Linked DNA regions of Homo sapiens. The protein of the gene in region 1 interacts with the protein of each later gene in a pairwise test. Each region holds a gene or a part of one and is shown on either strand. Other genes may lie near its edges.

Region 1 (11,636 bases):
ACTAAAAAGGATGTTTATGATAGCAGAGTTTAGGTATTACATTAACTACCACCTCTTGGATGTTTTTACCTTTATCTTTTTCCTTTTATCAAAAGGTAGCTCTTTACTAATTCGGATTACAGGGAGCTGGGTTTGTTTTCCTTCCTTAGGGGAGTATCAGCATAACTAGTTTAGAGTGGTGCAGGTGAACTGCTGTCAACTCCGTAGGCCAACCCTAAACCTTCACTGTTATTTTATAACTTCTACTCAACAGCTTGCAACCTTTCAAGGTTAACAAGGTTGATGGGGAATGGTCCTTGCTCTCAAGAAGCTCGTAGGCGGCCAGGCACTGTGGCTTATGCCTGTAATCCCAGCATTTTGGGAAGCTGAGGCAGGTGGATCACCTGAGGTCAAGAGTTCAAGACCAGCCTGGCCAACATGGTGAAACCCCATCTCTACTGCAAATACAAAAAATTAGTAGCCGGGCGTGGTGGCTCACGCCTGTAATCCCAACACTTTGGTAGGCCGAGGCGAGTGGATCACCTGAGGTCGGGAGTTCGGGACCAGCCTGACCAACACGGAGAAACCCTGTCTCTACTAAAAGTACAAAATTAGCCAGGGATGGTGGCATGTGCCTGTAATCCCAGCTATTTGGGAGGCTAAGGCACAAGAATCGCTTTGAACCTGGGAGACAGAGGTTGCAGTGAGCTGAGATCGCACCATTGCACTCCCGCCTGGGCAACAAGAGCGAAACTCCATCTAAAAAAAAAAAAAAAAAAAAAAAAAAAAAGCCAGGCATGGTGACAGGCACCTTGTAATCCCAGCTACTCGGGAGGCTGAGGCAGGAGAATCGCTTGAACACTGCAGAGGTTGCAGTGAGCTGAGGTCACGCCATTGCACTGCAGCCTAGGCAACGAGAGTGAGACTCCATCTCAAAAAAAAAAGAAATACATGGTGAAGGATGTGCACATTTAACTATAATTCAGTCATTTTCCTCACCTCTTTTGGCTTCCAGGCACCTGTTCCCGCTCCTCCTATGGCTCTGACAGCACTTCCTTCACCTGCCTCTTAACTCTCGGCTCTTGACCCTGTGTCTGTTTTCCTAATCTTGGAATGATCCCATCATCCCTGAGAAGACATCTGGGCGCCCTGGCCAGGGGAGACAGCTGATGGGCAGAGCATCCCTGTGTGTGCATCACGAACACACTGTAGAGTCTGCAAAGTTCTGTGAGGGCAGAGCAGTAAGGGCAGCTGACTCAGGGAAGGCTTCTTGGAGGGGGTGGCATTTGAAGGATGGCAGTGGGGGTGGTGGAGGGAGGACAATCCAGGCAGAGGGAACAGCATATGCAAGGCAAGCCAGGCATTTCACTGATCAATTCCATGTTGAGTCACTGTCTTGGAGTCTATGCCACACAATGCCTGGGATATAGTAAGTGCTCAATAAATGTAAACTGAGTATAGTAGATGATGTTACTGCCCAGCCATGTTTTACAGAATGGAGAGCATCAGGCTGTAAAGGGCCTTCCTGCTTGCCGCTCACCCTGAGGATTGAGTTTTTCTTTTAGGCAGAAGTGGGCAGTAGAGAAGGCTCAAAGCCAGGGAATGTGAGTGGATTTGACTCACCAAGGACACTGCTTCCTAAGCCAGGAGGGAAATATTGGTGCCCTGCCTGGAAGTTAGTTTCAGGGGCCATTTCTGCAGCTGACAGAAGGATCTGGAGCCCAGTTGGGTAGAATAAGTTAGGTTTTGGCATTTCTTCTTAGAATCCCGGAAGGAATTTTAGCAATCAGCCGGTCCTGCTTCTAAGGGTCAGAGAAGATTCTGGATACCCCTCACATCAACAGCTCATGCAGCAGAGGAAAGATGAGGTCTCAAGGTGCCCCCCTGCACCCCAAGTGTGCCCTAGTCCAGCCAGGGTCCTCAGCACTCCACAGGCAGGGCTGGCTGTGTCTCCAAGCAGGGGCCTCTCTGCTTTTGCTCACAGAAACATATTCTGGGATCAGTGAAGAAGGAAAATAAGTTCACGGCACCTTCTTCCCCTTCAAAGTGATAATTATTCATGGGTTTAAAAAAACCCAGCAGGTTGTGAACAGGAAGTAACTGAATCCTGCCCCATTTCCAGACAACATGGACAATGAAGTCAAGGCTCACAGATGAAAATACAGAAATGTTCCCCCTTTTAGACTGGTTCTAAACTGCTCCATACTGACACACATAATCACCACCCAGGTGCCAGGTACTGTGCCAAGCGCTGGGCGAGGCATGACGCAATCTTTTTTAAATTAAAAGCCTGAAGGACCTCTACAAGGTAGAAAAACTGAAGCTTAGAGAAATTAACCTGACCAGAGTCATGGGGCTAAAAGAGCAACAGATGTTGGTGCCCAGCTCAGCTGTTTTGAATTCCAAAGCCTGGCTCTTCATAATCTTTGATAACTTCCACATGATATTCATCCCATCTGTATTCATTTCTCATGGCTGCTGTGCTAGCTCCCACAAACTTGGTGGCTTAAAACACCAGAAATTTATTCTGTAACAGTTCTGGAGGCCAGAAGGCCAAAATCCAGGCATCAGCAGGGCTGTGGGCCCTTCAGAGGCTCTGGGAGGGATTCTGCTCCTTGCCTCTTCTGATGGCTGCTGTTGCTCCTTGGCTTATGGCTGCACCACTCCAATCTCTGCCTCTGTGGTCACATTACCCTCTCTTTATGTGTCAAATCTGCCTCTGATCCATCCTATAGATATGTGTGATTGCATTAAGGGTCCACCTAGCTAACCCAGAATAACCCCCCTGTCTCCAGATCCTGTTGTTTTTTTTGTTGTTAGTTTTTTTTTTGTTTTTTTTTTTTTTGGAGGCAGGGTCTCACTCTTGTCACCCAGGCTGGACTGTAGTGGCATGATCTGGGCTCACGGCAACCTCCACCTCCTTGGCTCAAGCCATCCTCCTGCCTCAGCCTCCTGAGTAGTTGAGACTACAGATACATGCCACGATGCCCAACTAATTTTTGTATTTTTTAGTAGAGACAGGATTTCATCACATTGCCTAGGCTGGTCTCGAATTACTGGACTGAAGCAATCTGCCTGCCTCAGCCTCCCAAAGTGCTAGGATTACAGGCGTGAGCCACCACGCCCAGCCTCCAGATCCTTAATTACATCTGCAAAGACCCTTTTTCTAATGAGGTAACATTTACAGCAGGGGTCCCAACGCCCAGACTGCAGACCATTACCAGTTCATGGCCTGTTAGGAACCACAGCAGGAGGTGAGCGCCGGGTGAGTGGGCATTACCGCCTGAGCTCCACCTTCCGTCAGATCAGTGGCATTAGATTCTCATAGAAGCGGGAACCCTATTGTGAATGGCGCAGGAGGGGGATCTAGGTTGCGCACCCCTTATGAGAATCTGAAGCCTGATGATCTAAGTTGGAACAGTTTCATCCCAAGACCCTCTTCCCCCGACTTGTATGAAACCAGTCCCTGGTGCCAAAAAAGGTTGGGGACCACTGATGTACAGGGATTGGAATATAGATATCATTTAAGGGGGCATTTTTCAGCCTACCATGCCATATTTGTCCATTCCTTAATTTATTCCTACACAGACCCTAACTATGTGTGTATGGGCATTATTTAGGAGCTACAGAAATCAGGAGAGAAATAGACACAGTCCCTGCTCCCAGGGACCTCATGGTCACTCCTGTGACCTTTCATACAGTTTCCCAGATAATCCGGTGATAGACAATAGGAGTAAGATGGTAAGGATAGTCACAAGGACAATAGCTGTCACTAACCAGCAGCACTGTTCTGACACTTACAATGTATGTATTAACTTACTGACTCTCACCACAGCCTTATCCATACCTGTAAGTGGGCTGCAGTCTGTACTTTTCACTTCTCTGCAGGAGCACATGGGAGAGGTGGTCAAGGTGGGCAAGGAGTGGGGTGGTCATGAAAGGCTTCCGGTAGGAAGTGCCACTTCCACAACACAAGGACAGGAATTAGAGAAAGTGGAATTGGGTGGGGGTAGGATTGAGACCTCCCACCCACTAAGCAAAGGGAGGCAGGAGGGAGCCTGGATGCTCCCAGACTAGGGTTAAGGAGAGGCAGGAGAGTATGAAGACACTGCACAATGCCAGCTCAGGCAATGGTGGCCATTGAGTTTTCAGCAGGGGAGGGACCTGATCAAACTTGTTTCTTCCTAGAGAAGGGGCCGGAGTCCCAACTGTCCCTTCCATGTATATTTCCCAGTATATTTCCAGCCTGCCCAGGCTGCTGCAGCTGTTGGAAATCCCCTGGAGAATCAGAGGTCACCTGGAGGAAGCGGAGGACAGAAAGGAGGCTCCGCGCCTTCCCGCCCTATCCATGGGGACCTCTTGCTTTCCTGGAGCAACCCCCTTCACCCTGCAGCCGGCCCTGACATGGGTATTCTCTTGCTGCTTCTGCTCGGGGCTGCACTCTGAGCTCTTGGATCAGGGTTTTGGGAGCCCTAGTGGTCCCAGGTCCACTTCCAAGGACCCAAGGACTCCATAAATTGCACCATCTCTGAGGGACCTTTGGGTAGGCACTCAGCCATTTCTGCAGGCCCTCTTGGGCTCCTAGAGCCTGGCACCTCAGTGTAGATCACACTGGGCCATGACTGCCCCCATCAAGTTCAGCAAGTGGCTGCACCCCTTTCACTGTCTCCCTAGCATACCCAACACAACGTAGGTGCTCAACAAAAACGTGACAACCCCAGAAAGAATGCCTGTGACGTGCTTTGCTGGCCCCAGCAGCACAGCGGTGAGCAAGAGACCCAGTGCCACTGGTGGGGGAGGCAGGTGTCCTTCAAACCATCGCCCACCAGAGACAAAACTGCAGAGACCTGGGCAAGGAGAGTCCGGTCAGGGAAAGCTCTCCTGGGGGATTTTTGAATTTGTGATGATCCTGTCTTTGACAAGAACTGGCTAATCTGGTTGCGGGATTCTGTCTTGGTTCACTTGGGATTTGTTCATGCTCAGGTCTGAGGTCCCCGCCTCTGCCAGCTGAAGTGGGTGAGTCTTCCAGCTCCCCTGTCCCCAGTTAGGGGGCATTCAATGCCAGGCTGAGCGCGGAGAGCCATTTCTGCAGCCCCCACCAGGGGGCAGCCCCAGCTCCTGGCCATCTCCTTTCTGTGCTGAGCCCCTTGGGTGAGAGAAAATGGCACGAGCTGACCTTGGACGAACTAATATCGGGGTCCCAGGGGCAGGCAGCAGCCCCCAGCTTCCACTCCCTACCTCCTTGCCAGGGGGCTGGCTGGATCTCCAGCAGCCAGTCTCTCCCAGCCAGCTGCTTGTCCTTATTCTCCACTTCCACCTCCATTTTGCAGGGTAGGTCGGGGGAAAGCAGCATTGCTTAGATTCGCTCTCATCTTCAGTTGCCCTAAAAGGAAGGTACTATTATCCTCACGGTACAGGCGAGGAAACCGGCTAAAATATGCTAGTATCCTGCTGAGCGGCATCCAGCTAGCAGAGACGCTCCTACTCAGCCGAATACCCCTACTCCACTCCCACGGCCTCCCCTTTCCCGCTTTCTCACATTTCGGACTCCTCAATCCTCAGAACCACAGGTCTCTCTTCCCAAGAGGTGTTGCCTTTCGTGGCTCTCAGACGAACTGAAGGGTCAAAGGAGAGTAGCTAAAAGCCAGGTTCATCCCAGGAGCCGGGGCTGGAAAGAAGAGGTCCCCGCCCACTGTCAGAAGGCAAATGGCAGTCCCTGCGCAGGATATATTCAGGGTTGAGCAGGAAGACCACAGAGGTACAAACCGAGGCCCAGCTAGGGGAGGCCATGCAGTTCACCCCGTACTCCCTGTCTGCGCCACTACGTTGCTCCCGGCTCCTCACATAATGGGCGGGCCCATCCCCTCTGGGTGGGGCTTCCTCTGGGCCCACTCTTGCCTGGAGATCAGGGACTTGAAGGTAATTAAGACATATCTTGCCCTGGAGGGCTTCCCAGCATGGTAGGGGAAATGGGCATCCCACTAGAGAATTAAGAATTAACTGGGCACCTGGAAGAAGGGCTTAGAACTCAGAATAGAAGATAAGATGGCGTGCCATCAGAGAAGCCTTCCCGGAGGAGGAAACCTCTGTGCTGAGCATGACAGCATAGGTGGGAGTAGACTCAGCCAAGGCCTTTTTTTGGGTTGGGGCCAGTCGTTGCCACAAAGACCTGATGTGCCGAGCAAGAAGGTGGAGAGAAGAGCCCGGCCGGGTCCTGCAGGGCCCCGAGGCTGGGCTGGGAAGTTAGCACAAGCTGGGGTGGAGGCTCCGCTGAGCACTAATGGGAGGAGGCCAGGGTCCTGACCTAGAGCCTGCGGCCAGCGGGACAGAGATTCTGTCCTGGATTCTCTGAGCTTGGGGCATGCGGGCTGCCAGGGAGGTGTGATGGTGGGAACCCGGCGAAAGGGAGGAAGCCTCTTCCAGGCGTGGAGCAGCCTTGGGCCCTGAACAGGCAGGCCTCTGGAAGCGCCTCGCTTTTCCTCCCTCCGGCCTCATCCTGGTTTTCTCCTCATCTCCCCGTCGCAGGGTCCCGGGTCCAGGCTGGGGTTCAGTTGCCTGCTCCTCCTCTCTGTGCCCTCCCCCGCCCGATGGCCCCACAAGTGCTGTCTTGCAGGAGAGCGCCGGGAGACCGCAGGGCGGAGGTGAAGAACGGAGTCCAGAGCCCTCCAGAGATGGCAGCGAATCCCGGCCCTGCCTCTTGCCAGCTGTGTGGCCTAGAGTGAGTCCGACCTCTCTGGGCCTCAGCTTCCTCCGGGATGAATGCAGTCACGGAACGCGCCAATGCAGGAGGCCCCCAGGACATCCTGAGCGCTCGGGAGACGCCAGGCGCGGCAGCGGGCACGGATAGCGGAAAGGGGCGCGACCCCGCGGAATCCTCCGGCAGGGCAGGGCCTTTGGGTGGCTCCGGGTGTCCAGAGGAAGGGGTGGGCTCGGGGACGCGGAGGGAAACTGGGGACGCGGAGGGAAACTGAGGTCGCGGAGGACGCGGCCGTTGGCAGCTCGCTGCGCCTGCCGGCCCCGCGTGGGCCGCCCCACTCGGGAGGACGCGGGCTCCTTTTGTCTGCAGCGTCCCCGCCGCCGCCGCCCCCGCCGCCTCCCCCTCTCCCTCCCATTTTCGCCGCGGCCCCCGCCCCTCCCCTCCCCGCCCCCTATTGCCCCTCCTCCTTCCCCTCCCCACTCTTCTCCTTCCCTCCCCTCCCCTCCCTTCCCCTCCGGAGCGGCTGGGGCTGCGGCGCCGCTGCTGACACGGATCGGCCGCGGCCGCCACCGGGCGGAGGCTGCGCGGCGCAGACCCAGACGGGCGGCCCCGGAGGGCGCGCGGCGATGGCGGCGGCGGGCAGGCGGCGGGCGCGGCGGGCGAGGGGTCCGGGCTGAGCTGCGGGCCGGCCCGGATGGCGGGCGGCGCGGGCTGGTCGGGCGCCCCCGCGGCTCTGCTGCGCTCCGTGCGCCGCCTGCGCGAGGTGTTCGAGGTGTGCGGCCGCGACCCCGACGGCTTCCTGCGCGTGGAGCGCGTCGCGGCGCTCGGACTGCGCTTCGGCCAGGGCGAGGAGGTAAGCTGGCCCGACCCCAGTCCCGGCCCGGGGACCCCAGCCCAGCCCCGCCGCCCCTCCCCCAGCTCCCCCGCCGGGTCACCCGCGTGGCCCGAGGCGGTGGCCTCCCTCCCAATCCCCTCCCTCCGCCGGAGCCCAGGACCTCGGCCCCCCCCGGGTATCCCTGGCCCAGCCGGGCCCTCGCTTTCCGCCCCCCGGCGCCCGTGCCCCGAGCGTCACGCGTCACGCCTAGGGTGGCTTCTGCGCCCACCTTCCTTCCTCGGCCATGCAGGTCCTTCTGAGCGGTCTGCACATCCACCCTTGTCTGGGGGAGAGAGCTGCCAGAATCCGGCCCTAGGCTCCCCACCCCACCCGGCGCTGCGGAGACCAAGATGCAAGGGTCTGTGTACGTCCTGCTGGGCCGGGCCAGGGGGTGAAAGGGACCGGTAGGGGTGCTCTGCAGCCTTGGCTCCTCGGCTGCACACACCCTGCCCAGACACGGAAGGAGGTGTCTGCTGGGGCCACCGTGTACTCCCGGGCCAGTGTCGGGTGACCTCTCATTCAGGCTCTGCTGGGCAGCCAGGCTGGCAGCTGGCTGTGTTGGTTGCAGCAGGCCAGGCAAAGCCAGGCTCGGGGAGTGGTGGCTGAGCAGAGGGCTTTCATGTGGCGGGGCCGCATCTATTTGGGGAAAGCAGGACTTACGTAGATTGTTAACAGGGCTGGAAGCGGAGGGTCGGTGCCGCCAGTAGGGTGGACGGAGTCATATCACTAAACGCACACTACACCAGTGTCCTCTGGTGCCACCGGCATGGGGACTGGGGACTGTGTCTCAAGGGGAGGACAAGACACCCACCTGGCTGAAATGGTCAGGGGTTTCCCCTGGAGCCAAAAGCCCTGAGAAGTGGGTTTCCAAGGCCATCTAAGGCCTCAGGCCCTGCATGGGGGGCCTGGGGCCATGGGCCTCAAATGGGCACTGGCTGGCATTGTGTTCCCAGAACAGGTCGGACCAGGCATTTCAGAACATGGGAGAAGCTGGGTGATGGCCAGGTTGGGCCCGTGCCTCTGCGTCACCAGAGAGTGGGAGGCGATTGAGAATCATCTCTCCACCCGCACCTGGGCATGGGCCGGGACTTGTGAGTCGCTGAGAGCTGTGGGCAGAAGAGAGTGAGGCAGCTTCAGGGCTTGAGAACTCAGGTACCCACCACAGGAAAGACCACTGCAGTGCCTGTGAGAGCCCAGACTGCCCTCTGCGGGGCTTTGCTGAGGGACACTGCCTGCTGCCACCATGACCCTTCTTCCCCAAAGGCCAGCCAAGCCCTTCCGTTTTTCCAGTGGCTCCCATCTGGGGCAGGCTGAGCAGACTCCTGGCATGGGGATAGTCGCGCTCCTTCCTCTCAGAACACAGACTGCAGGTCGGGTAAAGAAGCTACCAGCTCTGGCTGAAACCTGGAGTCCCCGAACTCAGAGCCTCAGTAGTGGGAAGGGCCTCCCAACAACCTCTGGCAGGGGCCACCGGCCTCAGCCACGTGCCCAGCAAGCCTCACCCACTTCTCCCCCAGCTGGACAGTTCCTGCCATTAGAACCTTCTCCCTCATACACTCTAGAGACAGACCTGCTTGTCACTTAGTCATCACCGTTCTGCACGGGGACTCACATAGGTCTCTCTTCTTTGGGGGAGCCTTTAAATATTTGAAAATAGCACTCCTGCCCCTTCTCTCCTTCCCAGCTCCATACTCCCATTTTCCCTTCTCCAGGCCAAATACCCCAGTTCCTGAAGCCCTAGGCCATTTCCATGTGACCCAGTAGCCAGACCTCTGGCTTCTGGCCTTGGAGCTGCCATCGACTAATTCTGTGATTCAGTTTTCCTAGCAATAACATGAAAGGGCTGGACAAGCAGACCGCCCCCCGCCGCCCCCACCAGGACTATATTAGCCCCAAGACCTCACACATATGCACACAGCTTAGGGTGGGGCTGCCTCTGAATGGGGCACTGCACTCTGCTTATATTAAGTTTCTGGCCACCGAAACCTCCAGGGATCTGTTTTAGAAACCTCTGCCAAGCCAGGGATTCTCCACCCTTCGGGGAGGGTCAGTGATTTTTTTCTTTTAAAAGCATACTCTGAGATTACTACAGAAGCGGTGGATATGCATTGCAGAAAACTGGAAATAGGGACAAGCAAAATAAAAAGTATTGTGTCCTATCTCTCAGGCAGCGCCTCAATGACACTTCTGTCAGACCTTTCCAGAGCTGTTTCCATGCTTATATGTCAATTTTCTCCAGAAAATGAGATCATACTGTGCATACTGTTTTGTAACCTGATTTTTTTTGCCGGTAAATGATCATGACTTTTCTGCTTCAATAAATTTTCATCTGGTTTAATATGCAGACCTTTTTCAGATTTCCCTATTTGACCCCAAAATGTCCATTTTTGCTGTTTCCTCTCCAGGACTGTGCAGTGTATGTGGTTGTTGTCACCTTTTAGTCTCTCTTACTGTACACAATTCCTTTTTCTTTTCTTTTCTTTTCTTTTTTCTTTTAACAATCCTGGCTTGTGGAAGCATTCGGGCCTGTTGTCTGTCAGTAATTTCTGGAATCTAAGCCTGTTTCTTGGCCCTTATTCCCATTTAATTTCGTCTTGTTCATTTCATCACATTGTATCTGTCAAGAAAGAGAATCTAGCATCCTACCTCTATCACTCTCAGCTGTGCTGCTGCCTGCGGGCTGGAGAAGCAGTGCTTGGTGTGTCTGAATCCACAAGGCTGGTTAAACATTGCAGGGCAGGACCATGGACAGGGCCCCGAGGCACTTGTAGGGGTGGTTTTCGGCTTATGCTGTATTGACCGAGACCCGTGGAAATATATTTTGCATCTCTACTCACTACCCATCTTATCCCCTGATGCATTAAAAAATCGGAGTGTTGTTTTCCAGCGGTGGGGTGGCGGGGGGCGGGGGGGGGGGGCTCCCTTACGAAATGCAGTGTACTCTGACTGTTTCTATTTTATTTGTTTTAAAATCAGGCAGTGACATTGATTTCCCAGCCACTTGTGCTCTGGGATGGATAATGATCATTCATTAGATATGTAGTTCAGTGAACTTAGAGCTGATTGTCCACAGTTTACCACCTACCCCCAGAATACCAGGGATACCAGGATCAAATGCTTTGCAAAAACCAAAATATACTAGGTCATAAAGTATGAAATAAATATCCATGAGGCCATAATGAAATATATATATGTATAAATTATTGAACAGATGATAATAAATAAATAGGAAAATCTCTCGTATAGAAGAAATCTGAATAACGTATGTTGATAATTGCCCCATTGAGGAAGTGAAGCATAACGTCCCACCGTGTAAGCATGAGATGTGCGTAGTGGCTTCCTTATAAAGGGTAGAGTTTGGAAAGTGGGGGGAACAGCAACTGTATAGTGGAGAAACCCAACAAACACTGTCTCAGAAGGTGATCAAGGACAACATCGATAGTGACAGATTGTGATGATGGCATACACCCTTGGTGTGATGTGGTGAGAATAGAACTTTTCCTCTGTGGTCTTCCTCCCAAACCAGTAATCCCAGTCTAGTCCTGAGAAAAATGCCAGACAAATCCCATCCGAGAGGCATTCTACAAAATGCCTGATTAGGACCTCTCAAAATTGTCAAGGTCATCCAAAACAAGGAAATTTTGAGACACTGTCAGAGCCAAGTGGAGACTAAGGAGGCAGCTGACTAAATGCAGTGTGGTGTCCTGGATGGGACCCTAGAATCAAGAAGAGGACATTAGGTAAAAACTAAGGAAGTCAGGATCAAGTATGAATGTTACTTAATAATGTTATTTATGGATTAGGTTAGTCCCTGATAGTTCCCTACTTTGTTGACCTAGGTATCACAGCAGAAAAGAGGAGACAATGGGCCGGGCGTGGTGGCTCATGCCGGTAATCCTAACACTTTGGGAGGCTGAGGTGGGAGGATCACTGGAGCTCAGGAGTTCCACACCAGCCTGGGTAACATGGTGAGACCCCCCATCTCTACAAAAAATACAAAAATTAGCCCGGTGTAGTGGCGTGCACCTGTAATCCCAGCTAGTTGGGAGACTGAGGCAGGAGAATCGCTTCAACCTGGGAGGCGGA
Region 2 (11,604 bases), on another chromosome or scaffold:
AGAACACCATGACCAGCCAGGCAGAAGGCTCTCATCTCAGACCTACATCTTTCACAGCCTCAGCTCTCCGAGCTCCCTTGCCAAGTGGCACAGTCTAAGCAGGGGCTGAACGGAGCCTCTTGCAGGCCACAATTCATGGTCACAACAGTTTTAGTCTTTGTGATGAAAAAAGACAAACTGATCCCAACCCAAGCTGAACCCACAGCCTTTGCTTTCCCAAGAGGCCAGCTTCTAACCATTGATCCAACAGGCCCAGGATGACGATCCTGTCTGCCACACTCCAGGCCTTACCGCAGGGACCATTTCACCCTTATCAGGATGAGGGAGAAGGTGGACAGGGGCTCCATATAACACAGTTGTGCTCTCTCCTCCTCTCCTAAAACACACAAAGACCAGCATTCCAGGGGGCAAAGACCAGGTCTCCCCAACCAAAATGGCCTTGTGGCAGATGCCCTGTCTTCTTACTCCAAAACCTTTGCTGCTGCTTCCTTCCTTCCCTCTTCTGATATATCCAGGTCCATTCCCTGGGGGTGTGATCCACACCAATCGCATAAAGACCAAAAAGGTCCAAATGACCCATCTGACCCCACAGGGAACAAGGAAAACTAACTAACCACCACATCCCATCCCTGTCTTGGGAGTTAGGGAGGCAAACACAGGACACCCACTGGGGAGTGCTAAGAAGGACGTTGGGCCAGGCGTGGTGGCTCATGCCTGTAATCCCAGCACTTTGGGAGGCCAAGACAGGTGGATCACCTGAGGTCAGGAGTTTGAGAACAGCCTGGCCAACATGGCAAAACCCAGTCTCTACTAAAAATACAAAAATTAGCTGGGTGTGGTGGCACATGCCTGTAATCCCAGCTACTCAGGGGACTGAGGCAGGAGAATCGCTTGAACCTGGGAGGGAGAGATTGCAAGTGAGCCCAGATTCTGCCACTGCACTCCAACTTGGGCAACAGAGTGAGACACTGTCTCAAAAAAGAAAAAAAAAAGGATGTTGAAGATAAAAACCAGAAAATAAATCGCAGAGAAGCATCCAGGATTTCCAGACCAACAGGAACATGACGATCCATGGACAGTTCTACTGAGGGTGGGGAGATCATTAGTTTCCTTGTGTACTACCATTACATTTTGTTTTGAGAATATCCTCTTCAATTATTTGGAAGCCTCTGGTGAAATTCCTCATTTCAAAGACTGCCCCACTCACACAAGACCTTCGGAGGCTGCTGAAGCACCTACAACCCCAGCCACCACCATCACACAAAATGGGGCCCCAGAGTCACCACCACGCTAATATTTTGAGAGCTTCTATGTATCCAGAACTACATTAAGGCTTTTACAGATGGTGTCTTATCTAATCTGTACAACTCTATGATTATTATCATGACCTTTTTCAAAGTGAGGAAGTGGGATAAGTAACCTGTCTGCTGGTAAGTCACAGAACGGGGAGTGAAATCCCAGTCTCCAGGTTTTTAAGCCCTGGGCCATCCTTCCTTCCCAACAGGGCAGGGGCAGCTCCAGGCAGGGCTGCCAGGGAGGAGAGCTGCAGAGCTGCGGGCTTATCTGAGCCTGGTTTCAGGACTGCAGAGGCCTCTCAAGCCCAGCCCTATTTCTTGGGCCTCTTGCAGCAAATAGAATACAGAGAGCTGCAAAGGGCCAGCTCATTTTGTTGGGAACTCTCGTACTCTTCTGTGTACTCCGTCACCCATGGTCCTAAGGCTTTCCTAGGCTCTAAGTTCTAGACTGTCTCCCCCATCCCATAAGAAGCTCTTCCAGACATTGTTACTAAAATCTCCCTTCACCATCACTGCTCTGCACTGACCACCTACCATGTACAGGGACTGTACTAGGTGCTTAAGCTGCATTTTCATTTCATCCCTCACATCAACCATATGAAGGTATAAATTATCTCCATTTTACAGACGTGAAAACTGAGGCACCAAGAGTTTATATGACTTGCCACAGGTGGCAGTTTTGGGACTGGGATCTGTCCAGTGCCACTCTGTAGCCCCTTCCTAACCATAAGGGTACCTTCCCCAGTCAGGTCCTCTCTTGGCAAAGGGCCACCACCTGCCCTACCTGAGACCACCACAGCCAACTCCTGGAGTTAAAGAATGGATACTTTTCATTTCCACCATTATCCAAAGCTGAGGAGGGTACACCCTGGTCTTCTCTGCCTTGCCCTCTCCCTACCAGGCAGCGTTCAGACTCAGTCTTGGTAGCCCACACCAGGGTGCTCCAGGAAATACCACCAGGAATGACCACTACAGCCAGAGGTGGGGACCACAGCGGGGGTGACAGCCCTCCCCCTCTGTCAGTGGGCATGCTGTTAGGTCCAGTAAACTAGAGCACCAGGCCAACTTCACAGACTTTCCTCTGCCCATCCTAAGTGACCCTCCCCACTCCTGTTCCCCCCCCGGTTCTATAAATAAACCAGGTTGTTGCATCAGAGAAAACAGCCAGGTGGGTGTGGAAAGATCCTGGTGGAAAAGATGATTTCTATAAAATAAATTAAGGTTCCCATTCAGATCAAGGGGTGGTAAGTCAAATTCTCCAAGACAGGCTGTTCTTGGCTGAAAATGGGTCCACCTGGACCTACAAGCTTGGCCAGCTCAGCTAAGGAAGATCCAGAGGCCAAGAGGAAAGCAAGGGCAGGAACTGGAAAAAACAATCAAAGAAGCTGCTCCCTGCAGGCCTGGAGCCTTTTTTTGGTCTGCCTCCTCCTGTTCCCCCAGCACCCCCTGAACAGATGTGTCATCTAACAGTCTGGTCAGAGTAGCTGATTGGTGGAGGGTGAAGGACTGGGGGAAGGGGTGGAATGATTTGGGGGATAGGCACCTCTTCTGAAAAAGAATGGGCTAAGAGATCCAGGAGAGAGCTTTTCGCCCCATATACCCACCCCCTTGGGCTCCAGGAACCAGGAAGGAGGGAGAGGACAGAAAGGAGGAAAAAAACAAGGTCCAAGCTATATACCACATGATCCCACACCCTGCCACCAAACAGCAAGTCATGAAGGAAGGCGGGGAGCAGGCCAGGGGATGGGGAAATGGAGTCAGGTCACAGCCATGCCTGGAACCTGCACTAACGCCCTCCCCATCCCAGACCACAGAGAGCCAGCCAGGAAAGTCATTCCACACCCATGTTTCAGAAAACATTCAAGGTCAGATCCTTTTTACCTAAATCCTGCTTTCATTTGGGTTTGCACCAGGCTCATCCCCCTCCTCCAGCAAGCCTTCCTGGATTTATTCACTCAGTGGATGCCATTCCACTGGGGCAAACCTTTCCGGCACCTCTCCTGACCTAAGGCACAGTCCTGCCCCAATCCCCTTACCCTCCTACCCAGATCACTCCCAAGTTAACCACTTGAGTGATCCACAGCAGGCTGTCAGCCCCGGGGACTGGCTTCCAGCTCCTGCCCAAGCCCAAAACAGGAAATGGGGCTCCAAGGCTGAAGCCTTGATCTTAACACAGGCAAGGTTAAATGCTGCCAAAATAAATGATTTAAAAAAACCCTGGCCCACTGAGGTGGAAGTGACCGGGAGATAATCTCCTGCTGTTCATTAACCATGCCGCTGCCTCTACCTCAGGCAGGGCAGGGCAGGCAGGCAGGCCACTGGAAGGCTGACTCAAGTGTTTCCTTCCTTAACTTAGAAGCTCCTCCTATCCTCAGACCAGGGACACAGGACACAGAGGGACAGGATGGGGGTGGGGGGGTGACATCTCTAGATAGTGGAGGGCATCTTGAGAGCAAGAGGCAGATGCCCCCTGCAGCCAGCTTCTACGTTTAGCGGGGTAATCAACATTCAACCTCGCCCTGGAGGAAGACACCTGGCTTTCCTTCCCCCGTAGGGCAAGGCTGCGCCTCTCCACTCCCCTGCCGGACAGGCGCCCGCAGTTCCCCTCCCCTTTGAGGAAAGGGAGGCAGGCCCGGAGGTTCTAAGAACGGCCCCAAGATTTCCCTTCTTGAGGTTTCCATAGCCCCAAAGCCTCTGAATCTCATTCCTAACTTTACTTGACAATCTACTCCTAACGTTCGCCACCACTTAAACCTCCCCCAGGCCTCCCAGGGACCACCAGTGGCTGAGCCCCACACAGCGCACGTTTGGGAAGCTTGAAGACGACCCCGAAATGCGAAGAACCAACGTTTCTGTCGGTTTACGCCCTTAAGCACGAGGCAAGGGCTCACTGGCCCGGCTGAAGTTCGGGGTCCTGATCCCCCACCAGCCCCGCCCTGTTAGGCCTTTAGCCGTTTCTGTGCCCCCGCGCCCCCTACTCACTGCGTGTGCTGGGCGCGGCCTGCGCCGAAGACCTCGTCCAGCGCCACCGTGGCCTGGCCCAGGAACTTGTCGACGCCGATGAGCGAGCGGTGCATGGTGGTGAGCACCAGCTCGCAGGCGGCGGCGGAGCTCGCGGCCCAGGGCGCCGGGCCCGCGTCGGCCTCCTGCGCCCGCAGCAGGCCATCCAGGGCCCCCGGCGGCAGCTCGAAGGAGCACTCCTCACGCCACTCGGGGCAGCCGTGCGTCTTCTCCACCACCGACGTACTGTACTTCTCGCGGCCCACCTGGATCACCGTGTACGCGTCGCTGGTGCTGCCCGCTCCCGAGCTCTTGCCCCGCAGCCCGCGGGCCCGCAGCACCGTCACCTGGACGTGCGTGGGCAGCCAGCGGGAAGGCCCCGCCGCCGGCTCCGCGCCCCGCACCAGGGCCATGGCGGAGAAGCGGGGGGCGAGGTCTGGCCGAGCCGGTGCAGACCCCAGGACCTGGTGACAAACCCGGCCGCGGCAGAAGGCGGTCAGGAACCAACTCTGAGCGCCGCCGCAGCTGCGGGCTGGGCTGGGCCGGGCCGACCGGCCGCCGCCTCCCCGCCTCACCGGGCCGCTGGCCGCGGGCCGCGCCGCGACGTCAGCGCCCCGCCCCCTGCCCCGCCCCGCGCCCGCCGCCCCAACCGGCGAGGCGGTGCGACAGGGATGCGGGCACGCAGCTCGCGCCCCGGCAGCCGCAGACCAGCCCGGAGCGGGAAGGGGCGGTGCGCGGCCTCTGCAGAGGGTGGGCGGAGTTCCCGCGGTGGCCCCGCCCCTGGCTGGGGGCGCCCGAAGCAACCCGGCCTCGCTTGTGGGGAGCCCTACACCCGCGGCCAGGTACGAAAAACCCGCTCTGCGCCTCCAGGCCAATCCCACGTCTTCCTTCTAAAAGTCCCTGCTCCGGAAAGCCCTCTCCGTAAAAGGGTCCCGGCCCGCAGTTCCTGGGATGGCCAGCCTCTTGGCGCGGACTTGGGGTGATGGGGACCCCCGCCGCTCCCCTGACCCCGGGCCGCGCTCTCCCCTCCTCCAGTCCGCCCCTGCGGGGGAAAATGCCGGAGTGAAACTGGAGCGATTGCCGCCCCGCCACGTGACGGTCCCGCATCGGCGACCTGGAAGCGGGTGAGCTGCCGCCGCCTCCAATCTCTCCCGGCGCAGGGGGCCGGGATGCGGCCATGCGGCGGCGCGGGAGGCCCGAGAGCGGGGCTCACCCTCCTCAGACTCTGCGGCGGAGAGCCGAGTGATGAATAAATGAGTAACCACATCAATATTTAAGTGTTCACTCGGAGCCTTGGGGCCAGTGTGTCACGGGTTGGGGGAAATTACAGGCCCTGGTGGGGGGTTAAATAACTACTTCCACCCATTATTAAGTGCCTACTGTGTGCCAGGGCCTAAGTATTAACGTATACTTGGTTTATTATTGATAATAACGATGTTTAGTAATTATAGATGCTGAATTTCAGCCAACTCTGGTCAGTGCGCTTTTATATGCATTACCTCATTTTATCCTCAGAGCAACTCTGTGGGGTGAGTATGGCTTTTATCCCTATTTTCCAGAAGATAAAATGTCAGCTCAGATGGGGGAGGGTTGTGAATCCACTAGATGCCCCCAGAGCGTTTTTTTTTTTTTTAACTTTCAGAGCCTGTACTTTTAAAATAATAATTTAAAAATAATACACACAGCTTTTTTAAAAAAATCAAATAGGACAGAATGGCTTGCAATGAAAAGCAAGAACTCCCTCTCCATCCTTCAATCCAGGGATGCTGCTTAAAGCCACTGGTGTTTTCAGGTCTGATGGTTACCTCCACATCACTACATTAAGATGCTCACATAGCTACATCTGCATTTATCAGGACTGGCCACTGTCTGTTGCCTTCCTCCTATGATAGATAATGATTTAGCTGGCTCACACCCACTTCCATCCCTCAATCTTGTGTAGTTATGCTATTATTTTTAGTTCCTCTATAGCAGGGGTCCCCAACCCTTGGGCCACAGACTGGTAACCCTCCATGTCCTGTTAGGAACTGGGCTGCACAGTAGGAGGTGAGTGGTGGTAGGGGCTAGCTGGTGAAACTTCATCTGTATTTACAGCCGCTTCCTATCGCATTACCGCCTGAGCTCCACCTCCTGTCAGATCAGCTGTGGCATTAAATTCTCCTAGGAGCACAAACCCTATTGTGAACTGTGCATGCGAGGGATCTAGGTTGCATACTCCTTATGAGAATCTAATGCCTGATGATCTGTCACTGTCTCCCATCCCCAGATGGGACCATCTGGTTGCAGGAAAACAAGGTCAGGGCTCCCACTGATTCTACATTATGGTGAGTCATATAATTGCTTCATTATATATTACAATGTAATGATAAGAGAAATAAAGTGCACAGTAAATGTAATGCACTTGAATCATCCTGAAACCATCCCTGCCACCCTCAGTCTGTGGAAACTTACATTTTGGTCCCTGGTGTCAAAAAGGTGGGGAACCAGTGCTCTATAGGATACCCAACAGGAGAAACATGTATTTCTTCTTAGGGAGACTCCACAGTACCCCTCAACTGTCCACCTTCCAGGCCATGTCCTCTACTGGGAATATGAACCTAGGAAACCAGTAGAGTAGGCAGAGGAGACCCATGATAGCACACCCAGCACAGGCCCAGTCCTCACAGCCTCCCACCTTAACTCTTCCATCAGAAGACTGGAGTGGGGAAGTCCTAGGCACCAGCCCCATGGTCCAGCAACCCTGACGATAGCACCTAGCTTTAGAGACAGCCAGATCTGCCTACAGATATTGGCCATCTGCCTCTTAGTAGCTATGAAACCTGAAGTTTAAGCCAACTCTCTAACCTCTCTTGGCCTTATTTCTCCATTTGGATAATGGGATAATGATTCTTACCTCAAGCCAGGCGGAGTGGCTCACACCTGTAATCCCAGCACTTTAGGAGGCCCAGGCTGGTGGATCACTTGAAGCCAGGAGTTCAAGACCAGCCTGGGCAACATGGTGAAACCCCACCTCTACTACAAAGACAAAAAATTCCCCTGGCGTGGTGGTGGGCACCTGTAGTCCCAGCTACTTGGGAGGCTGAGGCACAAGGATCACTTGAACCTGGGAGGCAGAGGTTGCAGTGAGCCAAGATTGTGCTGCTACACTCCAGCCTGGGCGACAGAATGAGACTTTGTCTCAAAAAAATAAAAAATGGGGCCAGGCCTGGTGGCTCATGCCTGTAATCCCAGCACTTTGGGAGGCCGAGGCGGATGGATCACTTGAGGTCAGGAGTTCCAGACCTGCCTGACCAACATAGTGAAACCCCGTCTCTTCTGAAACTATGAAAATTAGCAGGGCATGGTGGGGCACACCTGTAATCCCAGCTACTCAGGAGGCTGAGGCACAAGAATCACTTGAACCTGGGAGACAGAGGTTGCAGTTAGCCAACATCGCACCACTGCACTCCAGCCTGTGCAACAGAGTGAGACTCTCTCTCAAAAAAAGAAAAAATGGAAATAAATCATAACGCAACCATCCATAAATAAACACTGTTAATAATTTGTTGTGTTTCTTTCTAGTCTTTATACTGTATGTGTTTGTTTTATATACATTATGGTTTTTGAGACATCTAAAGTATAATTATTAAATCTGTGGGCTTTGGAGTCCTGGTTCTACCATTACTTTATATATATTATCACTCTTGGCTATAAGTCTGTATACTAAAGAAAAAGTATATACATATAATACTTACACACACACACACACACACACACATAGTCATGTTTAACCCTGAAGATAACCATTTAAAGCAAGTGCTACCCTTGGTTTCACTGATGAGGAAACAGAAGCAGGAAGAGCTTGGGTGATTTTCCCCAAGTCTCCAACCGGAAAATTGTAGAGACTGAGTGGCTCTACTGGCTGTGGTACTCTGCTCTCACACCAGCTTGTTGGTCAGCCAAGCACTAGATCCATTTAAAGTCAATAAAGAAGGAAGTGTTCTCATACCCATTTTACAGACGAAGATTGAGGCAACCAAGGTTACAAGAGTCAGGATGAACCTCCCACTTTAAGAGTGAATTCTTCAAGGACTTTGCAAGTGACGATATCATCACTAAACTTCAACTAACATAAATGTGTCACTCCTTCAGCGGGTCTGTTTCATCTGTTTGCCTGTTCTCCAACGTTACTGCTCCTACCTCCTCCCTCCCTCCTCCTCCGCCAAGGAGGAGCAAAGCACCAGGAAAGGGGAAAAGGTGGAGAGCACTCAGATGGCTCCTCTGCCTCACCTGCCCTCTGGCTCTCTTTCCTCCTGCCTTGGCCCTCACAGATTGGCAAGCTCAAGCTTCCTGCTGGCTCTGGACTGTGGCTGGCTATAGGAGGGGAACGAAACCAGCCAGGGCTCCCACCCCACGTTGCCTGGCCCTAGAAGGAAAAGCCAGGTCTGCTAGCTGTCTGTGGTTGAGAAAAGAGCAGAAACACCAGATACTGAGGTCTTGGCCATCTAAAGGTGTGTTTCCTCCTCTATAAGATGAGATCCCCCCCACTCCCTGCAGCAGCCTGCATAAGAGTTAGACAAGAAGACCCCAAAAGCATCAGTTTCCTCTGCCTCCCCAGGGCTGGGTGTCCTCACTGCCTTCCTGGGCCTCTCTAGTCCATTGGAGACAGTTCTTGCTTGAAAAGCATCCACCTATGTGTAGCTTCCACTCATTGCCCCCTCTTCAGTACCACTAAGCCCATTTGCTTTTCCATGTAGACACTTCACATGTATTTGTCCTGCTCTTCCAGCTACATTTCCCTCTGTTCTTCACCTCACCTTCCTGCAGCTATTTTCCAGGCCCTCTTTATAGCAGAACCACATGCCCAGGTCTAAGCCCTGGTGCCACCACTTACTAACTGTATAAGCATGGGCAAATTACTGAACCCTACTGAGTCTGTTTCCACCTCTGTAAAATGGGCCTGCTAATAAGAAATTACCTCATAGGGTTAGTATGAGAGCTATCTCAATACACCCTAAGCAGTAATGAGCATGAATTATCATCTTAGAACTCTTTGCTGAAGGCAAAAGCTTCTGCCTCCTTGTTGTTTCATTTGCATTTCTTTGATTGCCAGAGAGATTGAACTTCTTTTCAGTTATTAGTCATTTGTATTTCCTTCTTTAATGAATTGTCTATTTTCTGAATTGCCTATTTTCTATGCTTGTTTTTCTTTGAAGCCTTAATTTCTTATTATTTATACAAATGCTTTATATGTTAAGAATAGTAACATGGCCAGGCACAGTGACTCATGCCTGTAATCCCAGCACTTTAAGGGGCTGAGGAGGCAGGATTGCTTGAGTCCAGGAGTTTGAGATCAGCCTGGCCAACATGGTGAAACCCTATCTCTAAAAAAAAAAATACAAAAATTAGCTGGGTGTGGTGGCACATGCCTACTGAGGTGGGAGGATCACCTGAGCTTGGGAAGTCGAGGTTGCAACAAACTGTGATCATGTCACTGCACCTCAGCCTGGGCATCAGAATGAGGCCCTGTCTCAAAAGAAAAAGAAAAAGAAGGCCGGGCACGGTGGCTTATGCCTGTAATCCCAGCACATTGGGAGGCCGTAGGTGGGCGGATCACAAGGTCAGGAGATCGAGACCATCCTGGCTAATACGGTGAAACCCTGTCTCTACTAAAAATACGAAAAAATTAGCCGGGCGCGGTGGCGGGCGCCTGTAGTCCCAGCTACTCAGGAGGCTGAGGCAGGAGAATGGTGTGAACCCGGAAGGCGGAGCTTGCAGTGAGCCAAGATCGTGCCACTGCACTCCAGCCTGGGAGACAGCGAGACTCCATCTCAAAAAAAAAAAAAAAAAGAAAAAGAATAGTAACACTTTGTTGTTCATATTTACTGCAGGTTTTCTTTTTTTAATTTAATTTAATTTTTTTTTTGAGACAGAGCCTTGCTCTGACACCCAGACTGGAGTGCAGTGGCACAATCTCAGCTCACTGCAACCTTCACCTCTCGGGTTCAAGCGATTCTCCTGCCTCAACCTCCCCAGTAGCTAGGACTATAGTGTGCACCACCACATCCGGCTGATTTTTGTATTTTTAGTAGAAACAGGGTTTTGCCATGTTGGTTAGGCTGGTCTCAAACTCCTGACCTCAGGTGATCCACCCCCCTCAGACTACCAAAGTGTTGGGATTACAGGTTTTAGCCACTGCTCCCAGCCTGGATATGTTTTCGATATAAGACATTAGGTAGGCTGAGTGCAATGGCTTATGCCTGTAACCCTAGCACTTTGGGAGGCCGAGGCAAGAAGATTACTTGTGAGCCCAGGAGTTCTAGACCAGCCTGGACAACGTAGCAAGACCCTGTCTCTTTTTAAAAATTATTTTTAAATTAGCTAGGTGTGCTAATGCACGCCTGTAGTCCTGACCACTGAGGGGGTTGGAGTAGGTCTGAGGCAGGAGGATTGCTTGAGCCCGGGACGTCCTGGCTTCAGTGAGCCATTATCACACCACTACACTCCAGCCTGAGTGACAGAGCTCAGGCCCTGTCTAAATAAATAAATAAAATTAGATAATCAAATCTTTGAATTCTTTCCATTGTTTTAAGCTTGAGTTCTTCCAAACTTACAGGTCCAACAATATTCATTTGGATTTTTTCAAGTTTTTAAGTTGTTTGGATTTTTGTTTGTTCTTTTATTCTCTTTAAATCCTGCTAGCAACCATTTTGATGAATGATTTCAGGTAAATATCTAACCTGCTTTCCCCCAACAGCTATCCAAGTTTCCCAATATTTATTGCAAAGCCCTATCCCTTAGCCATTGGGTTTATCATATAAGTTTATATATATATTTGTAGTGAAGGGGTGGCCTGCCCCTCCACACCTGTGGGTATATCTCATCAGGTGGGACGAGAGACTGAGAAAAGAAATAAGACACAAAGTATAGAGAAAGAAAAGCGGGCCCAGGGGACTGGCGCTCAGCATACCAAGGACCTGCACCGGCACCAGTCTCTGAGTTCCCTCCGTATTTATTGATTATTATTTTCATTATCTCAGCAAGAGGAATGTGGTAGGAGAACAGGGTGATAATAGAGAGAAGGTCAGAAAAAAAACATGTGAGCTAAAGAATCTATGTCATAATTAAGTTCAAGGGGAGGTACTATGCCTGGATGTGCACGTAGGCCAGATTTATGTTTCTCTCCGCCCAAACATCTCAGTGGAGTAAAGAATAACAAAGCAGCATTGCTGCCAACATGTCTCGCCTCCCGCCATAGGGTGGTTTTTCTCCTATCTCAGAACTGAACAAATGTACAATCGGGCTTTACACCGAGACATTCAGTTCCCAG

Evidence for each region.
Region 2: the proteins of RAB11FIP4 (region 1) and RAB11FIP5 interact in a two-hybrid assay, tested with the Homo sapiens proteins (one study listed by BioGRID).

The regions. Positions count from the first base shown.
Region 1 is NC_000017.11:31,384,483-31,396,118, forward strand, and holds the start of RAB11FIP4 (rab11 family-interacting protein 4), read left to right. Parts: upstream 1-7,192; 5' UTR 7,193-7,370; coding exon 7,371-7,529; intron 7,530-11,636. UniProt on the Homo sapiens protein: Acts as a regulator of endocytic traffic by participating in membrane delivery. Required for the abscission step in cytokinesis, possibly by acting as an 'address tag' delivering recycling endosome membranes to the cleavage furrow during late cytokinesis.
Region 2 is NC_000002.12:73,108,070-73,119,673, forward strand, and holds the start of RAB11FIP5 (rab11 family-interacting protein 5), read right to left. Parts: upstream 4,880-11,604; 5' UTR 4,709-4,879; coding exon 4,278-4,708; intron 1-4,277. UniProt on the Homo sapiens protein: Rab effector involved in protein trafficking from apical recycling endosomes to the apical plasma membrane. Involved in insulin granule exocytosis. May regulate V-ATPase intracellular transport in response to extracellular acidosis.